Homo sapiens: one gene and its partners. The protein of the gene in region 3 purifies or fractionates together with the protein of the main gene of each other region. This does not show direct contact. Each region holds a gene or a part of one and is shown on either strand. Other genes may lie near its edges.

The links.
Region 1: the proteins of SAMD4A (region 3) and LIN28B purify together in Homo sapiens (co-immunoprecipitation; one large-scale study listed by IntAct). This does not show direct contact.
Region 2: the proteins of SAMD4A (region 3) and LIMCH1 purify together in Homo sapiens (affinity purification with mass spectrometry, with the first as the bait; one large-scale study listed by BioGRID). This does not show direct contact.

What each region holds. Positions count from the first base shown.
Region 1 is NC_000006.12:104,959,956-104,963,616, reverse strand, and holds part of LIN28B (protein lin-28 homolog B), read right to left. Parts: intron 1-3,661. UniProt on the Homo sapiens protein: Suppressor of microRNA (miRNA) biogenesis, including that of let-7 and possibly of miR107, miR-143 and miR-200c.
Region 2 is NC_000004.12:41,697,692-41,700,546, reverse strand, and holds the end of LIMCH1 (LIM and calponin homology domains-containing protein 1), read right to left. Parts: 3' UTR 503-2,855; downstream 1-502.
Region 3 is NC_000014.9:54,762,568-54,766,228, forward strand, and holds part of SAMD4A (protein Smaug homolog 1), read left to right. Parts: intron 1-1,887; coding exon 1,888-1,973; intron 1,974-3,661. UniProt on the Homo sapiens protein: Acts as a translational repressor of SRE-containing messengers.

The DNA of each region.
Region 1 (3,661 bases), on a different chromosome or scaffold from region 3:
TCTTAATTTTGCTGTGAACCTAAAACTGCTCTTTAAAAAGGCAGGAGAAAAATATTTAAGAAGTACACCAATAATCTTTAAAACAGGAGAAAGGCCTACATCTTCAATATGTACCCAATTCACATTTCACATTTAAATTGAATCAGAATGTCTTTGTAGGACTTAAATACATGAAAAAGAGTCTGAGAAATGCACCACCACTTGAAAATCAAAAGTATCTTTAGGGCTACATTAAGAAATCTTATAAAATTTTGTTTTATAATAAATGCCTGGCCAGGAGCGGTGGCTCACGCCTGTAATCCCAGCACTTTGGGAGGCCGAGGTGGGTGGATCATGAGGTCAGGAGATCGAGAGCATCCTGGCTAACACAGTGAAACCCCGTCTCTACTAAAAATACAAAAAATTAGCCGGGCGTGGTGGCGGGCGCCTGTAGTCCCAGCTACTCAGGAGGCTGAAGCAGGAGAATGGCGTGAACCCGGAAGGCGGAGTTGCAGTGAGCAGAGATCGCGCCACTGCACTCCAACCTGGGCGACAGAGCCAGATACTGTCTCAAGAAAAAAATTAAAAATAAAATGCCTTTAAATGTGATGTTATGATTAAACGGCCTTAAAGCACTCAGCTTGAGATTCTCTGAAAATGGTCAACTGGGCAATTCATCTTAAAAATCTGGTAGGTTATAAACCATTTTAAAAATATTAAAATACGTAACTCACTATACAAATGAGCTGCTTATGTTCACATTTTCAAGTTTCCAAGATGTCTAATTTTTTTTAATTGGCATTTTAAGCAGCCCAGAGAATAACAATAATCACACATATTCTTCATGTGAAAAATGATTTTATGCTTAACTATAACAAAACTAAACATGGTTAATTAATTAGCAATGAAATATTACGAAAAGCCCTTAAAAATGAATATACTGAAATAAATTTGTTTTCCTACATTGTATAATTAATTAAATACATAAGAACTCTATATTAGATCAATTGATTGAACTATGTGTAAGAAATTTTTCATATATTTAAGCACTAGTCATCTCTAAATGTTTTCATATCTCATACTGTTAATGCTTTAACTCAGTAACAATAATGATTTTATTTTTTCTATTTCCATTACTCCTTGAGATATTTTTGAAGCAAAGGAACATAAAATATATAAAGCCTTTCTAATGTGGGCATTTGAATTATCCATAAAGATCAAAATCTAATTCAAAAATAAAGACCATAAGAAGAAAACACCAATACTTGTAAGGTAAATGAAGATGAATAAAGGTAAATTATTAATAAATATTTAGGCCTACTGAGTAATGGTAGCTAAATTGCAGTCATTTTGAAATTACTCTTTCTCTTTGAGAAAAAAAGAGATACATACATTATGCATACATTATGAAATAAATGAAATACATTTATGTAAACAATTGTATCATATTTGATGGCAAGGAATGCCAAGTATATATACACCCAATATGTGAAGTATTATTAAGCACATAAGCTGAGGAGAGAGTAATAAGGAGAATGTATTCTACACCTTCCCAGAACAAAATCAAATTCAAATGATCATTTCATCTTATTAGGTAAGATAATGACTTTGGAAATAAATATCAAAATCTATAGAAAAACCTATATAACAAACATCAACAGGTAGTTATTAGGTTAACGTTGCCCTTCTCCAAAAGAGATCTAATATTTAATTACCATTCTATTCCTCTAAAGTACCATCAAATATTTAAGTCTTATTAAAAACTTTTAACATTTCAAAAAACTGCCAGTAACATTTTCCAGGTAATGTAAATGTTATCCTACAATCTAACTGTGATTTTAAAAAACATAAGAAACTGGTAAGAGTATTAATTACTTGCACTTACAAAATAATCATATTCTGATTTATGAAATCACCTTAGTAAAAATTTAGACTTAAAGCCGGGCGCGGTGGCTCACGCCTGTAATCCCAGCACTTTGGGAGGGGGAGGCAGGCAGATCACAAGGTCAGGAGCTCGTGACTAGCCTGGCCAACATAGTGAAACCCCATCTCTACTAAAAATACAAAAAATTAGCTAGGCGTGGTGGCGGGCACCTGTAATCCCAGCTACTCAGGAGGCTGAGGCAGAAGAATCGCTTGAACTCGTGAGGTGGAGGTTGCAGTGAGCCGAGATCTCACCACTGCACTCCAGCCCGGGTGACAGTGTGAGACTCCACCTCAAAAAAAAAATAAAAGAATTTAGACGTAACAAATTTGTATTAACCACGTATATCCTTACTTCATTTGAAACAAATCTGTGTTTGTATTACTCGAGAAATTCTTAAATATATTTAAAAATAAAATCATCAAAATTGTCCTATTTTATTAAACATTTTTTAAAAACTTCAACAGTGAGATATGACAAAATTCACAAATATAATACTTACATATTTTGTTAATTTTTTAAAAATAAAATATTCATTATTGAACTATATCAATGTTTCACAATTAACATGGGTCAGAATATATATTTTCACATCATAAAAATATGATTATTTAAATTACAAATTAACATTAGAAAATCAAATGAAGACTGTCATTTTAAACCATCAATGGTTACATACCATCCTCAAATAGCAGAATCTCACAGCATTTATCAACATGTCTAAAGAGAGACTAAAGAGAGACAAAGTACAGCACCTAGGCATGTGTTTCTTTTTGAGGATTTGGTGACATCACAGGAACTACAAGAAAGTTTGATGGTATTACTGCCAATAAATTTTAAGTAGAGTTATGTAACTATAAATATACATAACTACAAATACACAGCTCAATTTTAAAACACACACATATATATATTCTCTTTATTTTGAAGCAACTGAATATGTTTTGATATGCTGTTACATGCAATCAATATTTTTAAGAGAAAAAGTATCCTAGGTTCCTCAGCATAAATTTTTATGTATTTATTAAGGACACAAATAATTTGTTTTTTATTTCTCCAAATATACATTATTAAAAATGTTTCAGAATACTTCAAAAAAAAAATCCAGTGACACATGTACTTCCAAACACTTCAAAAAAAACTATGTCATATATTTTAAAAATTTTGAGTAGACATAGGTCCAGTTGAACATTTAAAATTCCTAATCACCTATGATACATATCCTTTCACAACAAAATAGTACATAGACATAAAACCTGGTATGTTTTCAAAAATGCTTATAAAACTAAAAAGGCCTCTAAAATAATAATAAAAATGTTTTTTAAAATTCTATGAAATCGTCTTGAATTGCAACCTTATTCCATAAGTGATGCACACATAATACCTGTATCATTTACAACCATCTGTTACTTGTAGTTGCTTAGCTAACATCAGTAGGATTCCTGCCTTCTTCAAAACAATTATTCATACAATTTATATACAATTTATGTATATTACAATATAAGAAACCTCTTTAACTAGGCATCATTTAATACTGTCCTTTTAATATATACATGAACTGTATGTATATACTACTGTATGTAACTGAATATTAAGTCAACTATTTAAAAATCAATGTTTATAGTATAGAAACAGCTATATATTTAAAAAACTTCAGCAGCTACATGTTTTAATTCAGTGAATAGAGGAATGTTTATCAATATATAATCATTAAATAGTATAAACACAAATGTCTTGTTGTTCTAAACATTAACATTG
Region 2 (2,855 bases), on a different chromosome or scaffold from region 3:
CCAGCTACTTGGGAAGCTGAAGTGGGAGAATCACCTGAGCCCAGGAGGTCGAGGCTGCAGTGAGCTGAGATTGCACCACTGCACTCCATTCTGGGCAACAGAGTGAGACCCTGTCTCAAAAAAAAAAAAAGAAAAAGAAAAAAAAAGTTTGCCTTGCTTTTTGTCTAGCCAGTGCTGCAAGCTGACCATCATTTGGTTGTTTCAGACGAGTTTCACTGGCATTTGCATGGCCTCTGCTGGTTATTGTGTGTCTCATCTCCAGGAGCTTAAACCCTTCTATAGAAGGCAATTCCTCAGTGACCCCTAAACCAGCCAGTAAGTTTGGTTTGCCTTCAATAGTTGACCTCAACTATGCATCAATAGGTACATGCAAACATCCAGCACTGCCATCATCTGTCTATGTAACCCTGGACCAAAAGCTACAAGAGAAAGCTTGAGTCTCTCTTCCCCATGTAAGAAAACCAACTGCCACCCCTCCAAAAATAATTAATGGAATACAAAGTTGATTTGAGTATTTTATTTATAAATGTACATTTACTATAAAAGCTGTTGCATTTTAGACAACTTGTTGTTTTTATTTTTTACTGTTTCTCAGAGGCATTTTAGAATAAATACTTTAAATGAAAGTTAGTATAACCGATATAGAACACTGGCCCACCCAGAGCAGTAACATCTTTTGGACGGACTCACATATGAGGTGGATCATTTCAGTTTGTTAAATCTTACACTGTGTATAGATAACTATAATATGTATTGCATTAATCACACTACATAGAAAGGAAATGTCATGGAAGTTCGCTAGTGAAAAACAAAAAGTTACCCATTATTTTTATTAAAGAGTAGGGACTAGCTTTTGGAGTATGAGAAAAAAAATCAGATATACTTCCTCAGGAACAATAAATCACTCACTTGCCTCACCTGTTTTTTAAACAAACACATTTACATTATAGCTCAATGGAGCAGAGCATTTTTTTTTTCCTGGGATCTCAAAGATTATTTGAAAAGAAATAGATCATACTCATTATGCTGCATTGGAAAAAACAAGATCTAGTCTGCCTAAGCTGCCATGTAACAGACTCCAAATGAAATATAAATCAAATATAAATAGAAACAGTTGGCAATTAGAATTTAGAAAATGTTGGAGATTATTCTGTGCTGGTGACTAGTGTTCATTATGGGAAAGCACATTTTGCAGTTGGAGAATGGGGCTTTATTTTTCTTGACTCGATTCTAGCTTCAATACATGTACAATGAGCCTCACTAAGAAATATGTATAAATGGGTTTGTGAAACCAGAAGGGAATGTGCAATATTCATGTAATCCTTACATAACGGATGGAGTTGCACATGTAAAAAGTATTCTATAAAAATCGGTTATGAATGACCATATTGTACATGTTTGTGCATTACTAGTGGTACTCTGCTAATATCATGCAAAGTGTAAACATCCACATTATCAAAATATTTAATAAAACATGCAGGTGGATAATCAAAATATTGGACTTGATCTGTACATTTTCAAAACAATTTTTCTTTTTAATTTTTTCTTTTTTTCTTTTTTTATTTTTATTTTTTCCTGTAAAACAGCAAACACCTCCATGAGAAGTCTTGGAAACTTGGAAGTGACTTCATCTCTCTTCAATGTACTGCATCCATAATTTATCGCCATGTGCAACAGCTTTGCGTTTTCTAAGGCACAATTTTTAATGAAATGATGTGTAGATTTCAATCTAATAACAGCTCATCCAAATGACAAATATGGTCGAAATCCCTCCAGTGGCTGAGGAAATTTCTGCACCTATATGGAACCCACATGCAAAGAACCCATCTAGCATGTAATAAATAATCGCTAGCCATACTCAATAAGACACGGAAAAATTATTGCTTACATAACAGAAAAACATCTACTTGACCCCCTTTTATGACTACATCAATCTATTAGGAGTGTATCCATAGTCTACATTCACAAAATGTCATCTTGACTTATTTGCCATTGATTTAAGGCAGAATAAATAGTCCCCCTTTCCCCAGTCTTAACAACAAAAAACAAAAAACCAGCCTGGAGATCTACATTGTGATGCTTTTTAATAACTTGACTCCTTTCTTGGCCAGCTGAAACTCGTCGCACAGGGCAGAAAATAAACCAGCTCTCCACAAGAGTTCCTCTCTAAACTTCTCCATGGGCAAGGTCCGGAGTTCTTGATAGCAAAAAAAGTGATGGAGAATGGAGGAGAGTAGGTATTCATTGAAGTGGGCAGGGCATAATCTGTGCTGTAGGTTCTTGCTGATCACAGACCAGGGGCTGACCACATCATATACCACATAGATTCTATTAAGATGGACTTAACGCTTTTCTTTGGACACCTGTGCTTCAGGCCCTTAAGGAGAACTTGCCAGCAAGGGTGAGCAGTGCTCACACCTAATGATGAACTTATCTCGGTGCCTCATCTTCCATATACCTCATGTTAAGTCTCTTATTGAAGACTCCTAATCTAGTGCCTCGAGAGAAGCAGGCAACAGAGGCCTGATGTCTGACATTGACTCTTTGGAAGATTAAACTTCCTCACAGATTTTGATAATGACTTTGGAAATGATGACTGAAATATTTCCCTCTGCTTTCTTCCTACCTTTGGGCAACGTCCCGGAGTGTAAATCTAGCTGATATTGCAAGGTTTTGCTTTATTTGATGAACCAGCCTATATTAATGACATAACTTCCAAGGTACACAGAATCTAATACTAACGGTGCAATAATTTATTGGTATAATTTCTACCTCCAAAGGTAAGTAACACAAATGTTTCAGGATTACAGTATATATTATCAAACTAGTGTCTTTGCATTAAAAACAAATTATAG
Region 3 (3,661 bases):
CTGCCAAGCCCAAGTGGAGCAGCTACTGAACACGCGGCACATCGCCCTACTTCCTGAGAGACCCACAGTGCTATGGCCCTGCTTCTTTACATTTTACCTACGTTAAAGGAAGCTGTAACCCCAGTTAACACTCAGCATACACAATTCAAATTAACAACATGGTGGAAAGTGGAAAACCACCCTCCCCCAACCCCAAACCCTGCCATCCTCATTCCCAGGGATAGTCACTATTAAGTTTTGGGATATCCTTTCAGAAACTTCATCATCATACATAAGCACATGAATATTCACTTTTTTTTTTTTTTGAGATGGAGTCTCGCTCTGTCACGCAGGCTGGAGTGCAGTGGCGCGATCTAGGCTTACTGCAAGCTCCACCTCCCAGGTTCATGCCATTCTCCTGCCTCAGCCTCCCGAGTAATTGGGACTACAGGCGCCCGCCACCACGCCTGGCTAATTTTTTGTATTTTTTAGTAGAGACGGGGTTTCACCGTGTTAGCTAGGATGGTCTCGATCTCCTGACCTCGTGATCTGCCCGCCTCAGCCTCCCAAAGTGCTGAGATTACAGGCATGAGCCACCGCGCCCAGCCGAATATTCACTTTTATACACACGCAGGCCTTATTTACATTCTTTTCTACAGGCTGGTGGGTTTAAAAAAAAATACTATAGCCGGACACGGTGGCTCATGCCTGTAATCCCGGCACTTTGGGAGGCCAAAGTGAATCACTTGAGCCCAGGAGTTCAAGACCAGCCTCGGCAACATAGTGAGACCCTGTCTCTCAAAAACAAAATAATAAAATTTAAAAAGTATATATACTTACAATATTTCTATCAGTACAAATAGCGCCATCTCAAAGTTTTTTTTAAAGATGGCATACTATTCCACTGTATGCATAAACCGTAATGTATTTAACAAAGTCCCAATTAATAGGCAGTGAGGTAGTTTACAAGGTTTTGTTATGACAAACAATGTTATACTGAAAGTGTATGTGCAAAGGCAAGAAATAAATGGGATTGTGTGACCAATCAGCCATGCAGGGTTAGGGACAGGGAGGAATCAAGTATGATGCCAGGTTTCAAGCTTGGTCTCCTTGAGTGTCAGACATTTTTACTCTCTGGCTGACTCCTTTTGTCCACCCATCTCCACTGTGGCCCTGTACACATGACTAAGAAAGTCGGGGAATCGTCACCTCTACAATGAGACCAGAATGGGCCACAGTAACATGGCCGTGAGAAACCTAGTGCGTGTGTATACTCTACCCGCAGACTAACTCTGTTCCATCCTATTTAGCACTGACTTGAGTGTGTAGGTGAGCCTGCGCCTGTGTGTGCATAAATGTGCATATCACTCTGAGAAAGCAACCCTCTGAGGAGTGAGTAGCAGGCCTCCTGCACATGTGCACACCCACACACCTCCCCGTCTCCAGGAGGTGCCAGCTCGTTCCTCCAAACACAAACGCCGCTGTCTCTGCACCTGGCGAGGGGTGTGCGCTCATTCATAAAATCACGGAGGCTGCTCTCTGACAGTGTCAGGGTCTTGGATACTTCTGAAGCCCCTCACACAGAGCCACTTTCAAAGACCAAGCTCAGGACGCCACTATTCACTGCTGTGTTCTTCCTCTTATTGCAGTGTCTTATTGCAGAAGGCTTCATATAGAATGGCATGACTGGAATTAACCCAAGGGGCTTCTCGAGACAAGGGCTCCCACGGTGACCCAGCCTTTGACTTCTGTGGAATGAGGAGCCTCTTGGCCTTTTTTGTGAGCCTTACATAAAGCCACAGACACACATACCTCTCAGAGTGTTGGACCTGAAGGGAAATGAGAGTCAGGTCCCAGAGATTAGAAAGGGGTGCATTTTTCTAATTCATCTTTTCTTTTTAATTACAGTGTGCACACAGCTCTTGGTCTCCAGACCTGATGAGGAAAATATAAGTTCCTATTTACAGCTCATAGACAAGTGTCTAATTCATGAGGTGAGTAGTGACAGGTTTTACAAAACCATTTTTTTTTTATTGCTTAGAAATGGTTCTCAGAGTTTCTGTGATGTGATCATTTTAGCCTCCAACAACTTGTTTTTGAGTGGTGGACAGTTATTAATAATAGGTTGGGCAGAACTAGGCTATGACAGCCTCAAACCCAAACACAGCTTGAACATTACTTTGGTGTCCAAAGATTTGCCCAGACTGAGTGTTCTGATGTGCAGTGAACGCCTGCAACGACTTCTGGCTGGGGAAGCAGCCCCGGGTGGCCAAGCCTCAGAGGGTAACACATGAGCCCTGCTGCTTAGCCCTGGGCATTGTCAGGTCTTTTAAAAATCTTGTGTTGAACTCTTGCCTTTTAGCTCAGGGAACTGGAGAGAGGAAGGGAGAAAGAGAGCCCATAAAGAAATAATGAATGTGTATATGTGTGTGTGTGTTTGGGCTTGCGATTGTTGTAGGAATCGTATTTGCCACATATCCTTTTGGAGGAGGCCTGAGGCAGGCTGCAGGTGTGCCTACTGGACCCTCAGGCACAGTCTTCATATACAGAGTGAGATAGACCCTTTGGCATGGCGGGGCTAGGCAGCCGTCAGCACTGGTGGCTGTCCCTAAGGGACATGTAGGGAGAGGGAGTTGCACCTCAGACCTAAAACTCCAGTGGCTCCTTGGGCACCCCTCCCTCCCCACAAAGAGCTACAGCAGCAAGGCCTAGACTAGAGAAAACTTGGGACCAGATAAACCTAGGATGGTGAAGTCTTTTTGTAGGATTTCGATGTGAGAATAAGATAGTAAGGGGGCCGGGGTGGTGGGTCACACCTGTAATCCCCACACTTTGGGAGGCCGAGGTGGGAGGATCACTCGAGGCCAGGAGCTTGAGACCTGCCTGGGAAACATATCAAGACCCTGTCACTACGAAAAAAAAAAAAAAAAGCCAGGTGTGGTGGCGCACACCTGTAATCCCAGCTACTCGGGAGGCCAAGGTGGGAGGATGGATGGCTTGAGCCCAGGTGGCCAAGGCTACAGTGAGCTATGATCCTATCACTGCACTCCAGCAAGAGCAACACAGTGAGACTTGTCTCGGGGAAAAAAAAAAATAGTAAAGGCCCCAGGCCTCCTCACCTTTGCTGCATGGGCAGCCAGTACTCCAGGAGTCCAGTAGGGTCCGGTGAAGGGAGACGCCCAGCACAGCGGCCAGGCCCCTTCTCCACTTCCCTCTCATGTTCTCACCCTTCCAGCTGTCACATGGGCCCTGTGCTATCGAAGTTCTCACGGCCCTCACCCACTACCCACACTTCACATACAAGGGTACAGTCCCCCTCTGGGATTCCATCCCAGCTCCCCCTTCCCCACTTCCCCAAACCCTCATTTTTGCAGTTTCTCCTCTTGGCCGTATGGATTCTTATGTGCCCAAGCGGCTCTGGCCAAAGTTGTCAGTGTGACTACAGTGACCAGCCGCCTAGGTTGGGGGCTCAGACACGCCATCCTCTGAAATGTTTAACTATACCAAAGTACTAGACTTTTCACTGAAAAAAAAATGGTTTTTTCCCTCTTTAATGGCTTCCCTAGAGCACCCAGGCATTGTCAAAAGCCCGTACTGAAGGCTTATTTGTGACTTTGTTTCAGGGACAAGGCCTTCTCCCCACAAGCCTTGACTAATCCTTTTCTATTTCGAATCCTGACAC